3 linked regions of the Homo sapiens genome follow. The protein of the gene in region 1 purifies or fractionates together with the protein of each later gene. This does not show direct contact. Each region holds a gene or a part of one and is shown in the gene's direction. Other genes may lie near its edges.

The links.
Region 2: the proteins of DSG2 (region 1) and SCCPDH purify together in Homo sapiens (co-immunoprecipitation; one large-scale study listed by IntAct). This does not show direct contact.
Region 3: the proteins of DSG2 (region 1) and DLK1 purify together in Homo sapiens (co-immunoprecipitation; one large-scale study listed by IntAct). This does not show direct contact.

The regions. Positions count from the first base shown.
Region 1 is NC_000018.10:31,515,070-31,518,726, forward strand, and holds part of DSG2 (desmoglein-2 preproprotein), read left to right. Parts: intron 1-3,169; coding exon 3,170-3,205; intron 3,206-3,657.
Region 2 is NC_000001.11:246,762,380-246,765,650, forward strand, and holds part of SCCPDH (saccharopine dehydrogenase-like oxidoreductase), read left to right. Parts: intron 1-1,866; coding exon 1,867-1,978; intron 1,979-3,271.
Region 3 is NC_000014.9:100,733,328-100,736,984, forward strand, and holds part of DLK1 (protein delta homolog 1 isoform 1 preproprotein), read left to right. Parts: intron 1-821; coding exon 822-1,569; 3' UTR 1,570-3,657. UniProt on the Homo sapiens protein: May have a role in neuroendocrine differentiation.

The DNA.
Region 1 (3,657 bases):
TGGTTAGAAGGATGGGCAAGAAATATATTAAATTTTTTTGTTTGTTTGTTTGAGACAGAGTCTCACTCTGTCGCCCAGACTAGAGTGCAGTGGCGCGATCTCGGCCGACTGCAAACTCTGCCTCCCGGGTTCACGCCATTCTCCTGCCTCAGCCTCTCGAGTAGCTGGGACTACAGGCACCCACCACCACGGGCAGCTAATATTTTTTTGTATTTTTAGTAGAGACAGGGTTTTACCGTGTTAGCCAGGATGGTCTCGATCATCAGACCTCATGATCCGCCTGCCTCGGCCTCCCTAAGTGCTGGGATTACAGGTGTGAGCCACTGTACCCGGCCTAAATATACTAAATTTTAAGGCTGTTCCCTGATGATGTGGACACTGGGACCTCTCTGATCCAGGCACTGATCTTTCTCTTCAAAAATTCCCACCCAAGGAACATGCAGAGAGAAGTGATCTATCTCAGCATTGCTTTCCCTTGCTTTTCATACCATGCCACCTTTGAAAATACATAAATTTGGGGAGCACCACTTTGGTTAGAGACATCTCTGGCCATTGCTAGCTGGGCAAGTTAATAGTAGACAGAATGAAGAAGAGATCATAGATCTGATCATAAAATAGAGAATTAGCCATGATTGTTCATCTGCCCCAGAGAAGCCCACACTAGAAGCTGAACATCTGCTCTCCTTGAGTTTCTCTTTGGAATGGAGAGCCAAGAACATGAACTGACAATGGAAAGGAAAGAAAGAGGCTGAAAGATTCACTTGTGGAATGGACCCTACAGGAAGCTTTCAAATGAATGCAAAGGATGTGAAAGAGACTTTGAAATTTTAGGGAATGCCTTGTTTCCCATGATGTACCAACTAGGGCTTTGTGGATCCATGTGACCATGCAGATGGGAAAAGGCAAACAACTGAGAAAAGCTACACCAAAGACAGAGTCCAGTGAATTAATGCATAAATGGAAGGTGGAGTAGTGGGAGCAATACATATAGACAATAATTTCAATTTGGAATTATAAGTAAGAGAGGGATATAGAGCAATAGATTGTTAACAGAAACAAGAGAGGGATCTGGTTTTTTTTTTAAGATAAGGAAAACCTAAATATATTTGGTTTGCCAATCAGAAGGAAATAAATGTATTGATTAGCCAATGGAGAAGGAAGATAAAAGGTTAGTGGAAGGATTAAGGTTCTTGAAGATAAATGTGGGAGAACAAATAGAGTTGCAAATAAAGCACACAAACGATGGTTTGCCTTGGAAAGGAGTCAGGACACCTCTTCTGTGGGGAAAGAAGGGAAGGAGAGGATGACTGAAGATAGTCTCAGTCAAATAATACATGGGGTCATCTCATAAGAGTGAATAGGTACAGAGGTGTGACTAGAGTCATCTCCTAAAGTTTGGAATGCCTATTTTAGAAATGCAATAAGGGTAAGGCAATGACAAAGTGACGATATAATTTATAGTGTGAGCACACTTTTGAGGATGAAAGGGTTGTTAACAGATGGAATGCCTCACAGCAGGTGTCAACCTAGACTCTTCTGAGCAAATGCAGACATATGGTCACACTAGAAAGGAACCGCCACCCCATGGAAAGAGCAGCTATTTGAGAGCATGAATGTGTAAGGGATCTATTCAGCCACTGTGGCCTCCTCTAGCGATATTGCCAGTACATGGTCAGAACTAAAGAGAATAATAGGTTTCTAGAGTTGAGAGGAAAAGTGAGGCAGGAATAGCAGTCATGAAAATGAAGCCTCCCTGGTGGTCACTGACAACATCTTCAGAGTGGCAGGCAGCAGTCTGCTAGCTGCTCCGGTAGAACTGTGTGCAGCGGTGGAAATGTTTTCTGTCTGCCCTGTCCAAATGGGTAGCCCTTAGCACATGTGGCTGTGGAGCAACTGGATTATTCATTTCAAATAATTGCGGTTAAAATCCAAATAGCCACAAGTAGCTACCATATTAGAAAGTGCTGGTTCAGATTGAGCCAAGAGAAGAAGGAAGCCAGCAGGGAGATTAATGAACTATAAGGAAATCCTGCCATTTGCAGCAAAACAACATGGCTGGAAGTGGAGGTCATTATGTTAACTGAATAAGCCAGGCACAGAAATACAAATACAACATCTTCTCACTTATATGTGGGAGCTAAAAGTTTTGATCTCATGGGCATCGAGAATAGAATGATAGAATCCAGAAACTGGGAAAGGTAGTGGGGAGGTGGGGGAAGAAAAGAATTGATTAATGGGTACAAATATATGGTTTGATAGAAGAAATAAGACCACTAGTTAGAAATAAGTACACTAGTTCGATAGATCAGCAGGGTGACTATAGTTTACAATAACCTATTATACATATCAAAGCAGCTAGAAGAGAATTATTTAAATGTTTCTAGCATAATGAAAAGACAAGTATTTAAGGTAATTGACATCCCAAGTATACTAATTATCTTTACAAATTATATGAATGTATTAAATTATCACATGTATTCCAAAACTATGCACATCTTTAATGCATCAATTTTTAAAATTATTATTTTACAGTGCAAAATATTCAGAAAGCAAGATGGGAGTTTTTTGGGCAAATTTAAGAGTAAGCATAACTGTATTTAGAACAGTACTAGGTCATGATGAAGTCCCAAGTGTGACAGTGCCTATGAAGAACCAAAGAAAAGAGTTGGTGGGACTGAGGATGCTGAGGAACCGAGAAGTCAGAACATGGGCTGTCCGTGTGTGTGTGGTGTGTGTTTTTTTGTGTGTGTATAATGCACACACATCCATAGGGATGGTGGGAGTTAGCTGGGTGTGGGGTACATTACATACTGGTGGCCTCGAGGAAAAGTAAGCAGGTCCTGGAGAACACAAGATAAAAACCATAGGATGCGGAGTAAAGGATGAGAGAATGTCTAAGATTTCACAAGGCAGATTATTTTGTTTGTTTTTTAAGATACTGTTTTCTGGAGGAGTCAGTATGGATCCAGGAGAATATAGATTTCTCCTCGGGCACTTCCCATTAGGGAAGGCAATGGGAAAAATTAGTTTCCTCTTGACAAAGAATAGTAGTAGTGGTTAAACTTTTTTTATGTCTATAATATTCAATGCAGTAGGTTATTCATGAACAATGTTTTCACACTGAATTGAGCAGTAAATTGGCTAAATATCAAATAATTTTATTTTACAGATCTGCTTTAACGTTGGAAGTGGACTTCACTTACAGGTGAGGAAACAAAGGGATTATTTCTGCCTTCTGACTCAGGAGGGTTAATTCCATGGCAAACAGGTTGACTGGGCTTTACTAGATTGAAGACACATGTTGTATTAGACCCAGCCATTCCCATTCAAACAAGTGCAGAGGAGCTTATCCAGGGGTATTCAGTGCAGCAGTTTTTGACAATGTAAATATCCACCAATAGGTGAATGTTAAAACCATTTATGGTACATGAAAGAATGTCCATGACGAGGTGCTGAATGAAAATCGGGGCAAAATAAGATATATAGTGTAAGTCCATTTTTATAGCAAAAAGACCTTTATGCATCTGTGTATATATGTGCAACTGTATAGTTATGAAAAATCATAAAAGATATTAATCAAGCTGTTAATGAATACTTTGTGAGGTATAAATGAAAAAGTAATTTCAATTTTTTGTCATAGAAAATTTTGTTCAAGTA
Region 2 (3,271 bases), on another chromosome or scaffold:
TCTCTTGCTTGAACTTTTCGTAGCATTCCTACGGTTTCTTTCTAATCTGTCTTCCCACTGCTGTCCAAGAGATCTTTCTAAGACACAAAATCTGACCTTGTCATTGCCTTCTTTATAAAATGTTCCTGGCCCACTGCTTTGGCAGTGATTCTTAACTGAGATTTCATATATCAGAATCATGGCCGGGCGCAGTGGCTCACACCTGTAATCCCAGCACTTTGGGAGGCTGAGGGAGGTGGATCACTTAAGGTCAGGAGTTCAAGACCAGCCTGGCCAACAGGTGAAACTTCATCTCTACTAAAAATACAGAAATTAGCTGGACATGGTGGTGCACGCCTGTAGTCCCAGCTACTCAGGAGGCTGAGGCAGGAGAATTGCTTGAACTCAGGAGGTGGAGCTTGCAGTGAGCTGAGATCACACCACTGCACTCCAGCCTGGGCAACACAGCGAGATTCCTTCTCCAAAAAAAAAAAAAAAAAAAAAGAATCACCTAGGAAGCTTTTTTCACTGACACATGCCCTCATCTTGCTTCTGGACGTTCTGATTCAGTAGGTCTGGAGTGGGGCCTGAAAGCATAGAGCAGTGGTTCCCAACTTTGGAAGAGAACCCAAAACAGATGACCAGAGACTCTGGTTCGGTTGGTCTGGAATGCAGCCTGGGCACTGGGGCTCTCTAAATCTGCCCAGTGATGCTAATGTGCTGCCAGGGTTGAGAATCACCACTGCGGAGGAAGGAAGAAGGTTCCAGATTTGAGTGGTTTTGGTACCCACCCCTGGAGCACAAATGGCCGAAAGTCCATCTTCAGAGATGTGAGGCCATCCTAGACCCTTCATGATCTAGTTCTGGATAGCACATAGGATTCATTTTTCATCCAACTTTGATTAATTGATAGTAGCCACCCAGAGACTATGCTGGGTCGGACAATGTGTGTAGCCTGAGAGAGGATTAGAACCCATTAGTGTGGGCGCCATAGCAGGAGATGGGACAGGTGTGGCATGTGTGTCTGACCTTGTCTGTACCTCTTGAATTGTATGTTCTGGAAAGGCTATGCTACTGCATCCCTTCTTCCCTTTAAATAATGGGTTCTCCTTTCTGGAATCCATCTACTTTTGGGGTTTTAAAACAACCATTAAAATGTGTTTGTGTGTGTGTATATATACAGTTCAGAACCATTGCCCTCTGCCCTGGTAGATTAATAACACCCTCCTCTGAGTTATGCCTGTATGTTTTAGTTCATGTCACATTGTTATTTAATCTGTTTATCTCTCTCTCCCCCCCTTTCCTCCTACTAAACTGTAAGCTCCAGCAAAGGCAGTAATTATGTCTCAGGGCCTCAATGGTATCTGACCCTTAGTTGATACTTCATAAAAATGTGTTGATCATGATTGAATTCTTTATCACCTCATTCCTAAATTTAGTGATTGTGAAAGATGCTAGGATAAGTCCTCAAGAATTTAGTTTTTTGAGTCGAATTTTTACATCTTTAAGTGGAACAATTATATACCTATACTCCAGGCCCATATTTCCATTACTTGCTGGCTATTTTTGTCTTGTCGCCTCAAATAGGTATCTAAAACCAGATTTCTATATTCTGCCCCCCGATAAAAACTATCTCCAGATCATCTTTATTTCCTCCCTATTTCTTACCACTCCCCTTCCCCCCAACATCACGCCAGTCTTCAAAACTGACAGCTTCAAAGAATTAGTTTTCGCTCCCTGCTTAAATGATGACGGGATATTCTGGCAGATAAAATAATGTTTTCATCTATTGACAATGTCTCACTTGAAATAGAATAGTCGGTTTTACTATGTTCCAGGAGGAAATGACGTATTTATGAAATGCGCCCTTTGCCTTCTCCTTCACAGATTGATGCTGCCTCATTCACGCTGACATTCTTTGGTCAAGGATACAGCCAAGGCACTGGTACAGATAAGAACAAACCAAATATCAAAATTTGTACTCAGGTGAAAGGACCAGGTATTTCACATATCACTTAAGAATGCTTGGGAATTTTATACTCTTAAGCTATAAAGTACAATGCCATTACAATATATTCTTTTTAAAGCTTAATTGTTTTAGAAATACATTTGTACAAATTAAGTAACTTAAAATTATTCTGTCAAAGGAAGATTGAAATTATTGATATAATCCAATTTTATTAGTGCATCCCTCCCTCTGGCTGTTTTTGGAGTATGATTCAGTAATTCAGAATGGCAAATTTTAATTAGTATTAATAGGAAAAGGGATTGGTTGATATTCACCTGTTTGAATCTCATATGCAAGTAGTGTAATTATAATGTCAGTCAAATCTGTGCTCTAGGATTTCTTTAGAGTCTCTGAACACCCTGACATTGTTTGTAAAATATGTATGCACACGTGCACTTTTCAAGGGAAGGGAATGGCTTCTGATAGGTTGTTAAAAGAATGTTGCCCAAAACGTTCAAGAACTTTTGCTGTACATTTTACAGAACTATGCAGAGACAGACAGGTCCACTTGTGAACTGTGGTATAATTACTGTCAGAGACAGACAGGTCCACTTGTGAACTGTGGTATAATTACTGTCAGAGACAGACAGGTCCACTTGTGAACTGTAGTATAATTACTGTCAGAGACAGACAGGTCCACTTGTGAACTGTGGTATAATTACTGTCAGAGACAGACAGGTCCACTTGTGAACTGTGGTATAATTACTGTCAGAGACAGACAGGTCCACTTGTGAACTGTGGTATAATTACTGTCAGAGACAGACAGGTCCACTTGTGAACTGTGGTATAATTACTGTCAGAGACAGACAGGTCCACTTGTGAACTGTGGTATAATTACTGTCAGAGACAGACAGGTCCACTTGTGAACTGTAGTATAATTACTGTCAGCCCTTTTAGGTCACAGGCTATAATTTTTTATTGAGACGGGGTCTCACTATGTTGCCTAGGCTGGGCTCAAGCAGTCCTCCTGCCTCAGCCTTCTAAAGGGTTGGGATTACAGGCATGAATTGCCATGCCTGGCCCACGGGGGATTTTAATCAAGCCAGATGATAGTATGTTTCCATCTTGCCCTTTTCTGAAATTCCCACCTGACTTTTTAAGGTAAGTTGACTGTATTTTCATTATTTGACAGGATTATAAATGCTAATGTTCCGTTTGTTTATAAACATTTTTTTAACTTATGTTTAGTCGTTATTCTTTAAGAAAAAATTGAGAGGATTTTTTTGTTGTTTTTAAGTGAAGTGTGTGAATACAGATAGGGATCGGCTCAGTGTACAATAGAGA
Region 3 (3,657 bases), on another chromosome or scaffold:
CGGAGTTTTGCCATTTATCGGATGACAAAGGGCTCGCTCGTTTAAAAGCACTTACATTAAATGCTCCTTGTACTCCACTTTGAGCAAACAGCTTTGGTTTGCAAGCTGCACTTGGGTGAATGGACCACTATTAAACAGCCTGGTACAGACGCTGGCTTGTGCCACCGTAGACAGACCTCGTATTGCTTTCTCTTTGAGAGTCCCCAAGCGCTTCCTGCACAATAGCCTGTGGATCCACACCGCTAATAATAATAATAATAATAATGAGGGTTGGCGGCAACAGTGGACATAGGCATGAAGGACGACAGCGGGTCCCGGGATAGAGTGAGGGGCGCCCCTTGCTTGGTTCTTCTGCCCCAGCAGTCCAGGGATGGAGCTAAGGGAAGGGGGCTTGCTCCAGTCCTGGGCTGTCACTGACTTTTCCTCTCCTAGCCTCAGTTTCCCCAGTTGGCTAGTGACTAACCGGTTGGAGACTAACCTCTGGTTGGAGAGGTGCAGTAAGAGGTGGGAGAGGACGTGGGCATCCTGGCATGGGAGGTCGGGTGTGTCCCAGGTTAGCATCGAGATGGGGGTGAGGTGGGCACCCACCCACCCACCCCCAGAGCTACTGGTGAGCTTCTCGCAGACAGGGGTCACGGCCCCGGGCACCTCTCTGTGCCTCCCTGGCTGGCGTTCCCTCCCTCGCTCCCTCATTCACCTGATGTGTTTTAAGCACCTGCCCCTTAGTCAGGCCAGGGACCTTCTGCCCTGAGCCCCGTGCCCTGCAGCGCTGTTGTAGCCTAGCCCCTGAGGCCGTTTACTATGTCCCTGTTGTGTTGCAGCTCCCCCTGCCAGCACGGAGGCACCTGCGTGGATGATGAGGGCCGGGCCTCCCATGCCTCCTGCCTGTGCCCCCCTGGCTTCTCAGGCAATTTCTGCGAGATCGTGGCCAACAGCTGCACCCCCAACCCATGCGAGAACGACGGCGTCTGCACTGACATTGGGGGCGACTTCCGCTGCCGGTGCCCAGCCGGCTTCATCGACAAGACCTGCAGCCGCCCGGTGACCAACTGCGCCAGCAGCCCGTGCCAGAACGGGGGCACCTGCCTGCAGCACACCCAGGTGAGCTACGAGTGTCTGTGCAAGCCCGAGTTCACAGGTCTCACCTGTGTCAAGAAGCGCGCGCTGAGCCCCCAGCAGGTCACCCGTCTGCCCAGCGGCTATGGGCTGGCCTACCGCCTGACCCCTGGGGTGCACGAGCTGCCGGTGCAGCAGCCGGAGCACCGCATCCTGAAGGTGTCCATGAAAGAGCTCAACAAGAAAACCCCTCTCCTCACCGAGGGCCAGGCCATCTGCTTCACCATCCTGGGCGTGCTCACCAGCCTGGTGGTGCTGGGCACTGTGGGTATCGTCTTCCTCAACAAGTGCGAGACCTGGGTGTCCAACCTGCGCTACAACCACATGCTGCGGAAGAAGAAGAACCTGCTGCTTCAGTACAACAGCGGGGAGGACCTGGCCGTCAACATCATCTTCCCCGAGAAGATCGACATGACCACCTTCAGCAAGGAGGCCGGCGACGAGGAGATCTAAGCAGCGTTCCCACAGCCCCCTCTAGATTCTTGGAGTTCCGCAGAGCTTACTATACGCGGTCTGTCCTAATCTTTGTGGTGTTCGCTATCTCTTGTGTCAAATCTGGTGAACGCTACGCTTACATATATTGTCTTTGTGCTGCTGTGTGACAAACGCAATGCAAAAACAATCCTCTTTCTCTCTCTTAATGCATGATACAGAATAATAATAAGAATTTCATCTTTAAATGAGTAAGAGAAATAAGTATGTTATTCTAAAATCTAAACTCAAATGAAATTTCAAAAAAGACCAAAAAAAAACAAGGCAACAGAACCAGGGCTCAGTGCCGACGCCCCTACCCTGGGGGTCTCGGCCACATGGTCCTCGTGAAACCGTTACGAGTGCTGTACATGACCACCCACTGTGCAAAGAGCTACGATTGCTTTCGTTCGTTAATTCTCACACACCACATCCGACTCGCACTCACATCCAGCTCAACATCGCTACCTTTAGATCTTTCCGATTGATTTGAGATTTAGCGGAGTGCAGCGGCTGTGTGTCAGTCAGAGAGAGCCCCAGGTTGGCTGCTGGGGGGCCGGGCCTCTGTGCCAGCCCTGCCACTAACTCGCTGTGTGATCCTTGGCGAGTCCCTATCCCAATCCTGGGCCCACTTTCTCGCCCCTCTCGAGGGAGGGGTTTGAACACCGACCACCATGGTCCTCTCTGGCTCTAAAACTCTGAATTAGGAACGAGGGGGTATGAACCAAAACACTTCCTGACCCCAACAATTGGGATCTGATGAAGACGAATTCTCATCCTGGGATCCGAAAGGTTTTGGCCTATCCTGGATGAACGCTTGATGTTGAAATTTATCCTAACTGTGTTTCTCAAAGTGGGGAGCCTCCTGGCCCACTTCCCTTTTGGGAAAAAATAGCCCCTTTGAGTCATAATGTGCCATCTGGAGTTGCCACTTAGGCAGCCAGCCCTCCCCCACCCCTCTTTGCCCACCCAGAACCCCAACACTATACCTGCCTCTACCCTATAGAGACATCCCTTGAGACTTGAATGTACTTTGAGCCGCAAGTGCCCCTGGCAGAATCTGAGCAGCAACACAGCCCTCACCAAGGTTTTCACAGGGATTAGTGGAAATTGTCACTTGTGGGGCGCTTACTAGTTTTGTGGCAAATGTGGTCCAAGACCTGGCCCACACAGCCATGGGTTTACATTTGTGTTGCTGAGTTAATAATCCTCAGATCTCAAAAGACCTAGCCAGCTTCTGAATTTTGAATTTGACTTTTTTTTTTTTTTTAACAAAGAGCATCTATCTTTTTTGCAAAAATAGAAAGAAATGGGACAGAGCTCTGTTTAGCTTTTCAGCTTTTGGGGTTGGACAGCTAAACAGCCCTTGGGTACCAGATAGGAATATTTTGCTTCTTAGATTATTTGGATAAGAATCTATACTCTTAGCTTTATTGAGCATTGCCTGCCGTGTTTACCTTGCTCCAGGTGTTTATTTCTAAGTCATCATCACCTTCGTCATCTACAGTCAGTCACATCAGTCACCCACACACAACTCACAGTCACCCATCCATTGGTCACCTGCGCCATCGTCATGACACAATATCGACCTCATCACCTCATCGTCCTCCAGCCACTACCCAAGCCCCCTCATCCTGACTCAAAGCCCGACCAGCATCTGCCCAAACTCCCAACACCCCACTCTCCCCACCAAGCCATTGGTCTCCTCACTCCCGGTCCTTTGTCATCCTGATTCCAAGCCCCGCCCCACCCTCACCGCCTCCTCCGCATCATCTGCACTCTGCAGAGCCCCTCCTACCCGCCTCTGTCCCCACCAGGCCCCTCCCTACCGTCAGCCCTGAGTCCCACAGCACGCGTCCCCAGCCCCTCCCAGCCTCACCCCAAAAACCCTGTCACCCCACCGACCACCATCATCACTGGCAAGCCCCTTCCCCTTCTCCAGCTCCCGTCCCCACTACCCCTCCCGTCCCCCAATCCTTCCCCTCCTGTTAGCCCACCCCTCCTTTCCTATCACCCCCACCTTTCCCTTCCCATTCTCCCCACCCTTCCCCTCCGATCCCACCACCCTTC